Linked DNA regions of Homo sapiens. The protein of the gene in region 2 purifies or fractionates together with the protein of the main gene of each other region. This does not show direct contact. Each region holds a gene or a part of one and is shown on either strand. Other genes may lie near its edges. The genes, in order: MTMR1, LIPC and LMF1.

What was found.
Region 1: the proteins of LIPC (region 2) and MTMR1 purify together in Homo sapiens (affinity purification with mass spectrometry; 2 studies listed by BioGRID and IntAct, with this or other methods). This does not show direct contact.
Region 3: the proteins of LIPC (region 2) and LMF1 purify together in Homo sapiens (affinity purification with western blotting, with the first as the bait; one study listed by BioGRID). This does not show direct contact.

What each region holds. Positions count from the first base shown.
Region 1 is NC_000023.11:150,727,896-150,731,542, reverse strand, and holds part of MTMR1 (phosphatidylinositol-3-phosphate phosphatase MTMR1), read right to left. Parts: intron 1,435-3,647; coding exon 1,333-1,434; intron 1,019-1,332; coding exon 935-1,018; intron 74-934; coding exon 1-73. UniProt on the Homo sapiens protein: Lipid phosphatase that specifically dephosphorylates the D-3 position of phosphatidylinositol 3-phosphate, generating phosphatidylinositol. Could also dephosphorylate phosphatidylinositol 3,5-bisphosphate to produce phosphatidylinositol 5-phosphate.
Region 2 is NC_000015.10:58,430,522-58,434,872, forward strand, and holds the start of LIPC (hepatic triacylglycerol lipase precursor), read left to right. Parts: upstream 1-1,469; 5' UTR 1,470-1,511; coding exon 1,512-1,599; intron 1,600-4,351. UniProt on the Homo sapiens protein: Catalyzes the hydrolysis of triglycerides and phospholipids present in circulating plasma lipoproteins, including chylomicrons, intermediate density lipoproteins (IDL), low density lipoproteins (LDL) of large size and high density lipoproteins (HDL), releasing free fatty acids (FFA) and smaller lipoprotein particles.
Region 3 is NC_000016.10:869,915-873,561, forward strand, and holds part of LMF1 (lipase maturation factor 1), read right to left. Parts: intron 1,428-3,647; coding exon 1,247-1,427; intron 969-1,246; coding exon 815-968; intron 153-814; coding exon 1-152. UniProt on the Homo sapiens protein: Involved in the maturation of specific proteins in the endoplasmic reticulum. Required for maturation and transport of active lipoprotein lipase (LPL) through the secretory pathway. Each LMF1 molecule chaperones 50 or more molecules of LPL.

The DNA.
Region 1 (3,647 bases), on a different chromosome or scaffold from region 2:
TGGCAGGGTAGGTGTCACAGAACTCATAATTACTGTTTATTTTGGATATTTTCCAACTCTCATTTGGCAAGCCCTGTAAGGTGTTGGAGAAAGAAGAAGAGGGTGAAATGCATGACTTTACACTTTGAAAAAGTACTAAGCATGAAGTACATCCATTTCTTATTTGCAACTAAAATCCGTTTATAATTTATTGTTTATTGTAACTTAAAAGTCAATATATATATTTATTCGGTAAAACCCATTTCCTAGACATTTCTAAAAATCTAAAGAAGCATAAGAATATCCAAACCATACTAAAACATGAAAATTATACGCTAGAATCACATTTCTATATATTTCTTGTCCTATTTTCTATAAATAATGAGCTCTGTTATTTTTGAGAATATACTCAAAAGTCCTTTAGAAACACAGATACCTCTTACGAATGTCTAAAATAAGTAACGTAAAACATTATACCAAATATAAGGTAGAGACAACGTCATGAAACAAACGTCATGAAAATAAGATCTTAGTGGAATAATTTGAAGCTGACAATGCACTGAAGAGTTCCCAGACCCGGGAACACTGGATCAGACAGATGTAGTCACACCACATGCTTCGAATCTAACTGTAGTCAGTGGTTTGGATCCTTACTCATCAATTCTTTACCAGAACATCTAATAAAAACCATCTGGCAAATTTGGTTTTTAAACCCGTCCTTGTCCTTGAGTCCCACTCACCCTCTGGAAACAGGATGAACAAACATGACAAAGTCTAAGGTTTGGCACAGGGAGAAGAGAGAATCAAGGAAAGATGGAGAACCTATAAGCTAGCAGTTAAACCTGTGCATAACTTGTTCGAAAAAGTTTCTTCTCCACCACATCATTTCTAACCTTTTAGAAGAGAAAAAGATGCTCAACCTATTATTTTCAGTTTGATAAGCAATATACTTTACCTGTCTCTTATATTCAGATACTGGATCATAAACTTTCCAGCCATTAATTGGAAATTTTTCTTTATAGCTGAATGCAAATAGTGCCTGGACACAAAAACCACAAAACACATATGTTACTATTTCTTTTTATATCATATACCCAATATTAAAGCTTTTCATTCTAATATGAGCTGAGTGTATTAAGATTCCTATTTTAGTCTGTAAATTTTACAGCAACAAAGTAGCAGCTTTTCTTAAGCATTACCCAGAACTGACAAATTTCAAATATTCTAATATTAGTCACCAACAGAGGAAAAAAGAGAGGAAAAAAAAAAACCTCTGGAAAAAGGAATAATTAAACATAGGATATTTGGACCCCCACAAATGCATGCAGAAAAGGTTTACTCTGGTGTATTTACCTGTCCGTTAGAAAGAGGAAATGCATGTTTGTTGAGGTTTTCAAATATCCCTAGTTTACTCTGTTCTTCCTGTTTATAAGCAAGCCGCAAGTTCCTCATATCCTGTTAAACAATTAGCAAAACTCGGTTATTCAACATACATCAGGCACCTATAAGCCAGATACCGTGCCATAAATAAGGAAATTATTTTTTTTTAATTCATTTCTCCTTTTATACTTTATCCTGCTCCAACGGCACAGTCTCCACTCATTGCAACCTCCGCCTCCCTGGTTCAAGCAATTCTCCTGCCTCAGCCTCCCGAGTAGCTGGGATTACAGGCACCCACCACCACTACCGGCTAATTTTTGCATTTTTAGTAGAGACAAGGTTTCACTATGTTGGTCAGGCTGGTCTCAAACTCCTGACCTCACGTAATCCAACTGCCTCGGCCTTCCAAAGTGCTGGGATTACAGGCATGAGCCACTGCGCCTGGCCCCACTTATGTTTTCAAAGAAGGACTATACATACATTCTCATGTGCATAGGCTATCTGTGGAGGGTTACATTAGAAATCGGCCACAGTGGGTGCCTGAAATGAGTGGAACAGGGTGGCAGGGTGGTGGGTGGAAGGAGACTGATTTTTTACTATACACAGCTTTTGTATCTTTTGAATTGTATATCACCTGTTAAAAAATAAACCCCACACCTTGTAAAGCTCTTAGGCATGATCTGAGAAGGCTGGGAGCATTACCTTAGTAATCTAGGTTAGAGAACATTTAAAGCAGTTGTTAGCAAATGCTCACCCCAGCCATAAAAATATCTTAGTAAAAGAGCCCCAGGATGCCTGCCTAAGCAACATAATTTCCTGACATGCCCTCCCTCTAAGCTACATGGCTACACACATACACCTTGGTGGCTGACTGAGCTGACTTGCTATTTAAGATTGCTTACAAGCTAAGGAAAGAGCACATGCAAAGATTCTGGGATGTGTGTGTGTGTGTGTGTGTGTGTGTGGGTGGGTGTGTCAAGTATGAACCACCAAAGGAAAGCCCATGTGACTGGGATGGCCAGAATGAGAGGAGGGCAGTTCGAGACCAAGCTGCAGAGGAAAGTGGGTCAGGCAGAGCAGTCTTGTAAGGAGAGTTTTTCTTTTAGTCTAAGGATAATGGGAAGATACTCAAGCGTCATGAGAAAGGGGACGACATGTTTCAAAATTGCAGAACCGATCAAGTCACCCCTCTGCTTGCCATTGTTCCATATGGGGAACCCTGCCTGAGAAGGACAGTTGTCAGGGAGTGACTAAAGTGAGTTTAGTAAGCCAACAGATTCATGATCTGGAAGAGTAAAGGGTTCTTTGGAAAAAAAAAAAATGGTTTTGAACGCAGTCTAGGACCAACCAGAGGGAGCTATCTTCAGAGATTGAATCAAAATAAATAGATTGTAAGGAATCCTAACCCAAAATTTGGAAGGGGCGCTGATGATCCTGCAGGCAGGATCTCTTTTCTGGTACTTCAGGTAGGGTTTTTGGTAAACATTACCAAAGTCAAGTCACTGGGAATAAAATACATCAATTAGGAGTGGGTCCTACATGACTTCGTGATTAAAGTTATCACACACATTTCTACTTAAATTATTAGAAGAAGGGTACAAAATAAACAAATAAGCCCAGCTCAACATAAAAATTCCAAGATAGCCAAGAAACTTAATCTCATTTTTAATCACAGAATTTATGGGCCACTGCTGTCCCTTTAGGAAGTCTCTGACCATCCACATTGTTCTGAACGTAGTCTTAAAACAACAAACTGGGGAAATGTATTGGTCTCTGCTTTTCACTTGACTTCTCTGAGATGTGACAAACAATCACTTAGGTTATAGGTCCACGTTAATTAGAAATACAGTCAGCCCTTCCTATCCATGGGTTCCACATTGGAGGATTCGAACAACTGCAGATGGAAAATATTTTTTAAAAGGATGGTTGCATTTGTGCTGAACATGCACAGACATTTTTTCTTGTCATTATTCCCTAAACAATACAGTATAACAACTATTTACATAGTGTTTACACTGTATTAGTTATTATAAGCAATATACAGATGATTTAAAGTATATGGGAGAATGTTCTTAGGTTATATGCAAATACTACATCATTTGACATAAAGGACTTGGACATCCATGGATTTGGGTATCTGAGGCAGAGGTCCTGGAATCAATCCCCCACCGATACCAAGGGACAATTGGACTTCGATGGAAAAGGTTTACTTCAAAGGGTTACATAATAGTTTAAATTCGATATGAGATTTGAAGAGGTTGCTATCCCGAAAACATTTGAGTTACTAG
Region 2 (4,351 bases):
ATAAAAGTCAAAGTCCTTACAATGTCTCCCCATTCATTGGCCTCCTTGCTATTCCTGGAGCACACCAGGCATACTCCTACCTCAGGGCCTTTGCACAGACTGCCCGAAGCTCTCCTCCCCAAGACGTCCACAGGGGCAACTCCTTCACTTCCTTCAAACCTTTGCTGAAAGTTTAACTTCCCAATGCAATTCACTCTAACCACTCTGCTTAAAATCCCTACCTTCTCCCCAACCCCCTGCTTTTCTTGTAGTGGTTCCCATTACATTCTACCAGTCTACCTAATTTTTTTTTTTTTTTTTTTGAGACGGAGTCTCTCTGTGTCGCCCAGGCTGGAGTACAATGGCGCGATCTCAGTTCACTGCAACCTCCGCCTCCCAGGTTCAAGCGATTCTCCTGCCTCAGCTTCCTGAGTAGCTGGGATTACAGGCACTCACCTCCACGCCCAGCTAACTTTTGTATTTTTAGTACAGATGGGGTTTCACCATGTTGGTCAGGCTGGTCTCGAACTCCTGACCTCGTGATCCGCCCTCCTCGCCTCCCAAAGTGCTGTGATTACAGGAGTGAGCCACCGCTCCTGGCCAGAAATCTCTTCTTTATTATGTCTACTGTCCGTTATCCAACTCCAGAAGGTAAGAACCTCCACTGATACATAAGGACTTGTATACCCCACGTGCCTGCAACAGTGCTTGGCACCTAGTAGGCATACCAAAATATATAAATGTTGAACAAATGAAGAAAGTTAAAGTAAAACTAGAGGTCCAAAAATATCACAAAAGCCATCTATGGTCGCCTTTTCCCTACCTGATTTTGCTGAGTGGCCTTACTTTTCAGTCCTCTACACAGCTGGAACATTAATGAACACAGAGGGGGAAGAAGTGTGTTTACTCTAGGATCACCTCTCAATGGGTCACTTGGCAAGGGCATCTTTGCTTCTTCGTCAGCTCCTTTTGACACGGGGGTGAAGGGTTTTCTGCACCACACTTTGACCACAAGCATCACCAATTTCACTGAACCCAACAGAAATTTGGACCCTCTGGGGGCTCTCTGCGTGGCAGGGCCCTTTTCTTTTTCTTTGGGCTTAGGCTGCAATTTGAAACACCACTTTCCTGAGCCAGCATCCCCCTTGCAGCGCTGTCACAGGGAGGCTTAGGCAGCCACGTGGAAGCCACCTACCCCGACCTTTGGCAGAATTTCCAAACACAACACAGTAGCTTTAAGTTGATTAATTTGGAACTCTGACCTTGGCCCCAAAAGGTAAGAATACATAACAAGGTATTTTATTCTCAAAATGTGTCAGGATAAGAAGCACTTCTGTAAATCGACCTTTTTAAAATAGATATAATTAGATTTGCAGTTGGGGGCAGTAAAGAAAGGGTCTGAACAGTGGATAACATGTTGAGAGGTTAATTATTAATGGGCAGTCTTCCCTAACAAAGTATCTAATAGGCATTGTGGTCTCTTTGGCTTCAGAAATTACCAAGAAAGCCTGGACCCCGGGTGAAACGGAGAAATGGACACAAGTCCCCTGTGTTTCTCCATTCTGTTGGTTTTATGCATCTTTATCCAATCAAGTGCCCTTGGACAAAGCCTGAAACCAGGTAAGAGCCTGACTTTTCTCCAGAGATGGGCATGAACTTTTCTTTTTAAAACGTGTGTCACAAAGAATCCAGGGGTTTCTGACTGTATGGGACAGAGCTTGCTTCAGAGCGTGCCAGGTGGTTCTATACACGACCTCACAGGTTCACAGGGACACGTAGCCGTTTGTAAACAGAAATGAAATTTTAGAAAATCATCCTCGGATTAAAAGTCTTCTAAGAGTGCCTGCAGCTAGCAGTGAAGTCTCTTGCGTATCTGATATGGAAACAGTCATGCTAAAAGTTATTCAGCGGCAAATGATATGAAAGCGATTCAGATCTTCCTGAGAGTTAATGTGGCATCTAATTTGCAACCGGGGAGCCAGGCTTGCAATGAAATGCTCTGTCGGGTTGGGGTTGTCTAATTGCCTGCCTCTCTCAGAAGAGAGGGGAATTTATGAGAGTTCTATTTCCAGTCAGGTCTAAAGTAGAGATATCATTGCACAATTTCTAGACTTTGTTTTGCTGCCAAAATTTTAGTCTGAGGCTGAAGAATCCAACAGCCGTCCTGCCTGTTTTGTTTGTAAATTCACAAACTAGATTGATGGCGAAAGACAGATCAAATGCCTTATCAGGAAGGTAGTAGAGTGGAGCCCAGCTTCCAGGCTAAGCAGTGGACCAATAAATGACGGATCAGTTAATTGAACAATTTGGCCAGACTAGACAGGTGTTTGGGAATTTGTTTTGGTACTGGTTACTGGTCAGGAGCTAGTAACGCTAAGGTAGAGTCTGAGATTTTTCTTTTCTCTAAGACTAGCCTTGGAGAGAGCTCCGACAACTTTGAGAATTAGAAATTCCCTAACGGGATGTACCTAAAAATTTCAGAAGCTTTTTTCCCCTTTAAGAAAAAGGCTGTTCCTTTGTATTTGACTATTTTACTTCATAGGCCAGTTAATAACTGAGTAGCAGTATTAATTATTGCCATTCACTAAGTATTTTCTGTGCCAAGCACTATACTAATTATTTTTGACACATCATCTCATTTATAAAGCCACATCCAAAAATGACCCTTACATAATAATTTAGAGCCATACAGGTAAAATTGCTGGTAATCTTTATTCCCTTGGTTCATAGTGATTTTGCTAAAGGGCCTTTCCTGCCCTTTGCCCCGGAATGTTGTATTTGTTTGTTTACTTTTTAATGAAGTTTATAACACACTTCTAGAAAAGGGCCTCTATCATAAATCCTCAATGAGTTCTCACAAACTGAACCAGTACCCCAAAGCCTTCCTTGTGTGCCCCTTGAGCCTTAACATATATGATTTTTTCCTTTGGGGAGATTTTTCATTAATAGAAACACATCAGTTGCTCTTTTGCGTCTGGCTTCTTTCGTTCGACATTATGTTTGTGAAAGTCAACCATGCAGTTTCGTGGAGTTGAGGCTCATTCATTCTCACTGCTGTAGCATTCCACTGCGGGACCATGCCACACTTCCTTTATCCATTCTACTGTGGATTGGCCAGGACTGTTTTTGCAATGGAGCCATGGGAATTGGAAGCTGTCAGTGCTGAGATAGAGGTTGAAGGGAGGGATGGCCTCCCCCAGGCTTCTGGGTATTGTCCAGATTTTCCTTGAGCAATCTCATTGTCCTGATCAGCCTGCTTCTTTCCCCGGGGCCTAGTTTGTGCAAATGCTGAGAGAAGTGGCCACTATTAGCAAGAGGGTTCCTCAGAAAAGAGGATCCAAGTCAGGAGGCCTCTTGTTCTCTTGGAAGCAGAATCTCTTGGCAGAATTCTTTCTGCAATGAGTGAGCCCAATCTGTGTGCATGTGGCTGGTATGATGTCTTTCTGGGGAAACCGCAGGGAAGCCGGTGTCCTGTGGTGGAGCCCTTGTCAGGAAAGTTTCTACACCAATGGTTCTCAACAGGGGCAATTTTGCCCTCCAGGGGACACTTGGCAATGTCTGGAGACATTTTTGGTTTTTGGTTGTTAAGACCAGGGAGAGAGTGCTTCCCTTCCAGCATCTAGTGGGTAGAGGCCAGGGAAGCTGCTTCACATCCTACAATGCACAGGACAGCCCTCACAACAATGAATTGTCTGGCCCAAAACATTATTAGTGCAGAGGCTGAGAAACCATGATCTATGCCAAGCTTCAACTGTCACTCATCGAGCACCAGGAAGTACTCCCTCAAGGACCCTTCCTCTTTAGCCCCTCCTCCCAGCCTACTTCTTTTGAGTATTTATTATTAATGACATCTTACTAATGGAGTCACTAATGTGCTGCACACCCAGCATGTGCCAGGCACTCCACGGACATTTTATCTCATCCTCACCATATGGTTGAGTAAGCTGGCAGTTAAGTGCCTTGCCGGCGGTCGCATAGCTGGTCAGGGCAGAGCAGGGAGAGGTACCTGCAGCCTCAATCTGTCTACTGAGGCCGCAGTGCTCTGTGTCGAGCCCACACCCAGTGATTTGACAGCCAGAGGTTTCTAGAAAAACATTCTGCTCAGTTCCTCTCACAGAGAGGGAGATTTAGACAGTTGTTCCTGCCCTTCAGCACTAAGGGGGACTGGATAGCGTGAGCTGCTTGAAGCCCACATGGCACATCACACTTATGCCCAGCCCCAATGCCTGAGACCCAGGTTCCCCAGTCGGTGTTGCCATGAGAGCCAACGCTGCTCCTAGACCCTGGCAAGTCCCACCTTCCCGGTACTGGGCCCACTATCAACAGGCACCTTCTCCCTCCCCTCCACCCCAGCCTCAGCTTGCAAATCCTA
Region 3 (3,647 bases), on a different chromosome or scaffold from region 2:
GGCGGTAGTGGTACGGGGAGATGAGGCAGGGCCGTCTGCTGGGGTCACCTGGCTTGCACTTGAACTCGTAGTCCTCCCACATGGCATCGGGGGCGCTGGCGTTGGAGCTGGCTGTGCCCTGCAGGATCACCTCCGCCCGCTCCTTGGTGATGCTGCCGGGAGACCGAGGCAGGCCAGGCCCACGTCACACACCGGCTGGGCCGAGTGGGGTGCATGGGTGGGGGGGGTTCCCCGACTGTCCATCCTGGCCCAGGGGGAGGGCTACAGCCTCCACCTGCCTCCTGGTCAGGGGCTACTGAGAGGCTGGGTGGGGCTGAGGAGAACTTTTGGGAACTGTGGCCCCAGGGTCTCATTCGAGAACACCTTCTCTGCCCGTGAAGACCCAGCTGCAGCCGCCATGTGCCCCATGCCCCTCGGCAGCTCAGGGTGGACATGAGGGGGACAGAGGCCAAGGGGCTGGCCCCAGGACAGGGAGGGTGCCTGTGTTCAGGTGGCACTACCTGGCATTCCCACGCAGGGGGTTGGGGCCTGGTGGCCTCTCCCTTACGCCCCCAGTAGGCATTCCAGGGCCGCAGCCCACCTGCCTGGTGACCTCGGGCCCTGCCCCTTTGCCTCATGGGACCAGGACGAGGAGGCCTGCGTGTCCAGGCCCGGTAGTGGGGACAGCACGGCCTGTGCCTGGGTCAGGCTGGGGTGGGGCAGGGGACACTTGGGGTCATGGGGGCCTGCACTGTAACCCCACCTGAATGTGGCTGGTCAGGGCTGAGTCTCCCCATATACCCAGCTCCGGGGGACGGGGACCCCAGGCTCATACCTTCCGAAGGCCCCGTAAGTGTTGACGATGTGAAGAGAGTTGAAGTGGGTGTTCATGACCTGCCTGGAGCTCAGCAAGTTGAGGACCACGGGCACGCTGAGCCAGGCCAGCAGGACGCCCAGCGAGACGTTGGCTGCACGCCGCACCACGGAGCCTGGCAGGGGAGTGACATCTTCCAGGTGGGGCTCCCAGCTGCCCCGTGGCCTGTCCCTGGGGAGACCCCAGCTGCTGCTCCCTAAGGGTCAGCTGTCCTGGGTCCCGGGGACGGAGCAGCACCCGAACTCACACACCTTGTTCCTGGCACGCTACACTGCGGACGGCGCTGACTCTCCTCCTACCCTGGCGTCCCCAACCCACACGGGCAGGCTGTGGGGCTGGCACCACCCGACTTTCTCCTGCCCTTGGGCAGGGGCCCCCAGCTGAGCCACCTACCGAATCTGGGCTCGGGCCGGGCCCCTCGGATGTCCCTCTGCATCTGCAGAACTCGGTCCTTCAGGCTGCCTGGCCCAGAGGGGAACAAGAATCCCAGGGTGGCGTCATCAAAGCAGGCCAGGCTGGGCACCATAGTCAGCCAGTTCAGGAAGCTGAGGTTCCCGCTGACGATGAGGACGGCCTGTGGAGACGCCGCAGCTGAGTCTCGTGCAGGGGCTCGTGTGGGGCCCCTGGGCAGCTGGCGCCTCTCTTCCTGGAGCAGGGAGGGGGGAGGGAACCTGCACCCAGCTCTGCCCTTGCTGTCCCTCGGGCCCAGCATCACAACTGAAACCCAGCTGTGCCTTCATGGAGGGGACAGCAGATGCCTCAGAGGTGCCTTCCGGCAGGTGCTTCCAGAACATTCCTCCCATGACTGCACATTTCTGTGCAGGTTCTGTCCCTTGCTTTAGTGATCCGCAAGGCGGGGGCTGGACCAGACCACCAGACCCTGTGCCCTCCTGGAACTCCTCACTTTCAGAGGGCACCTGCCGGGGTCATGCCCGGGGAAGGCTGGTGAGTCCAAACAGAGGAGGCTGTGCTTGGAGAGTGGGTACTGGGGACGCCCCTCAGCCGATGGGTGACACAGACAACAGGGGCCGTGGGGGGGCCACCAGTAACGCCCCCACTCCAAAATACGAAATGCAAGGAAGTGAGACACAGGCACAGGACCCTGTGCCACAGAGATGAACAGCAGGAGAGGGGAGGGGCTGCATGCAGGGCTGGCTGAGCAGCACGGCTGGGAGAGCTCCAAGGAAAGACTCAGCAGCAGCAGTGAGTAAACCTGCGGCAGGAGGGACTCAGAGGGACCCGCTTCTGGACATCCCCGCAGGCCAGCGATCGTTAGGTGACGAAACTGGAGATGGAGCCGCTGTCCCTGCAGCTCCGTCGGGTGATATCACAGGTGTGCTGCCAGACCTCACCCCTGCCGTTGCCGTGGAGGCATCAGGGAGACAGGGGCAGCTTGCGTGGCCGGTCGCCCTGCATGGGTGATGGTCTGCAGCTGAGCCGGTGGACCCTGGGCCGGCAGGACCTGGGTGTGGCTTCCTCAGACAGCTCCGTCAGCCAGATTTGATGCATCAAAGCCCAGCCTTTATCCCCGTAACTCAGGAGGAAGGTTGAGGGCAGGGACATCGACGTCTAATGAAGGGACTCGTGAGGGCAGCCACATCAGTGTTATGGGCGATGATGGTGTTTTATGAACTGTGCACTCATGGCTCTCCCTGGGTGAATTGGGAAAAATAGCTTTTCTGGTTCTGAGCCCCAAAACAGTTATTTCTTATTCTCCACTGTCTACAAGGTTACTAAACCCCTGTGCCAAAAACAGCCCCGCCTCGCCCTGGCTGGGGTTAGCCACCTCTGCCACCAGCTCCCCTCCGCTGGTCCAGACCCCCATGCCCTCCGTCCTGAGTGTGACCAGGGCTGGTCTGGGGTGGGGTGGCTGGGAGCCCCTGAGCTCCCGTGACAGGGAGGGTGCAGGGCTAGGCACTGAGGTCTGACCTTTGGGCCCACTCTTGGGGATGCTCTGGAGGAGATGCCACAGGTGACACTGGAATGTCCTGGTGGGAAAAGCTCGGGTCTTTCTGGCCCTTCGCTGTGGTCAGCCTGACTGGCAGATGGGACCAAAGCGACCTGGGGCACAGCCTGAGCCAGTGCCCGTTCGGATGCTCGGCCATGCCAGAACCATCAGGAGCTTTGAGGAACACCCAGCCCTGAGCACCTGCCTGCCTGGGTCAGGGTGGGCCCTGCCTGAGTGTATTTCCAAAGCCCCCTTGGGTCATCCTGCTGTGGGCTCAGTGGGGAACTCTAGCCTCAGGGAACTAGGGCTCCAGAGAGCACAGATCTGGGCATCAGATCCTGTTTCTAAGAAAGCTTCGGGGCTCGGGGCCCTGCTCCATGCAGAGGCATCCCCAGCTGCGCCCCGTTCAGCTGCTCTGGTGCATCTCTCGCCCTCCATCTGGTCGGCTGTTTTGTTATGAAAACGCAGTTCCGCGTAGAGTGCACGGCCTGAGCGCTCCTGGGGGACCTCGCCTTCCTTGTTTTTCTTCTAGCATCACTGAGCCATCTCCTCAGAGGGAAATCAGTCTTCTCACTGCCCATCTGTGCTCGCCCCCGCCGGCGGAGTCCTCACAAGGCTGTGCGGCCCACAGATGACCCGGCCGGTGGCTGGGAGCGGAGGCGAGGCCCGAGGGGGTCCCCAAGGCCGGCACAGGAAGAGGAGCTTGAGGTGATGGAATCCTGGGCCCAAGAGACGGAGCAGCAGGTGTTCCGAGGCCAACGGCGCATGGCCCCAAGAAGGAAGAGTGGCATCTTTGGATGCAGCCTCCTGCCTGTCAGCTGCCACGGAGAACAGGTGGCTTGTGGG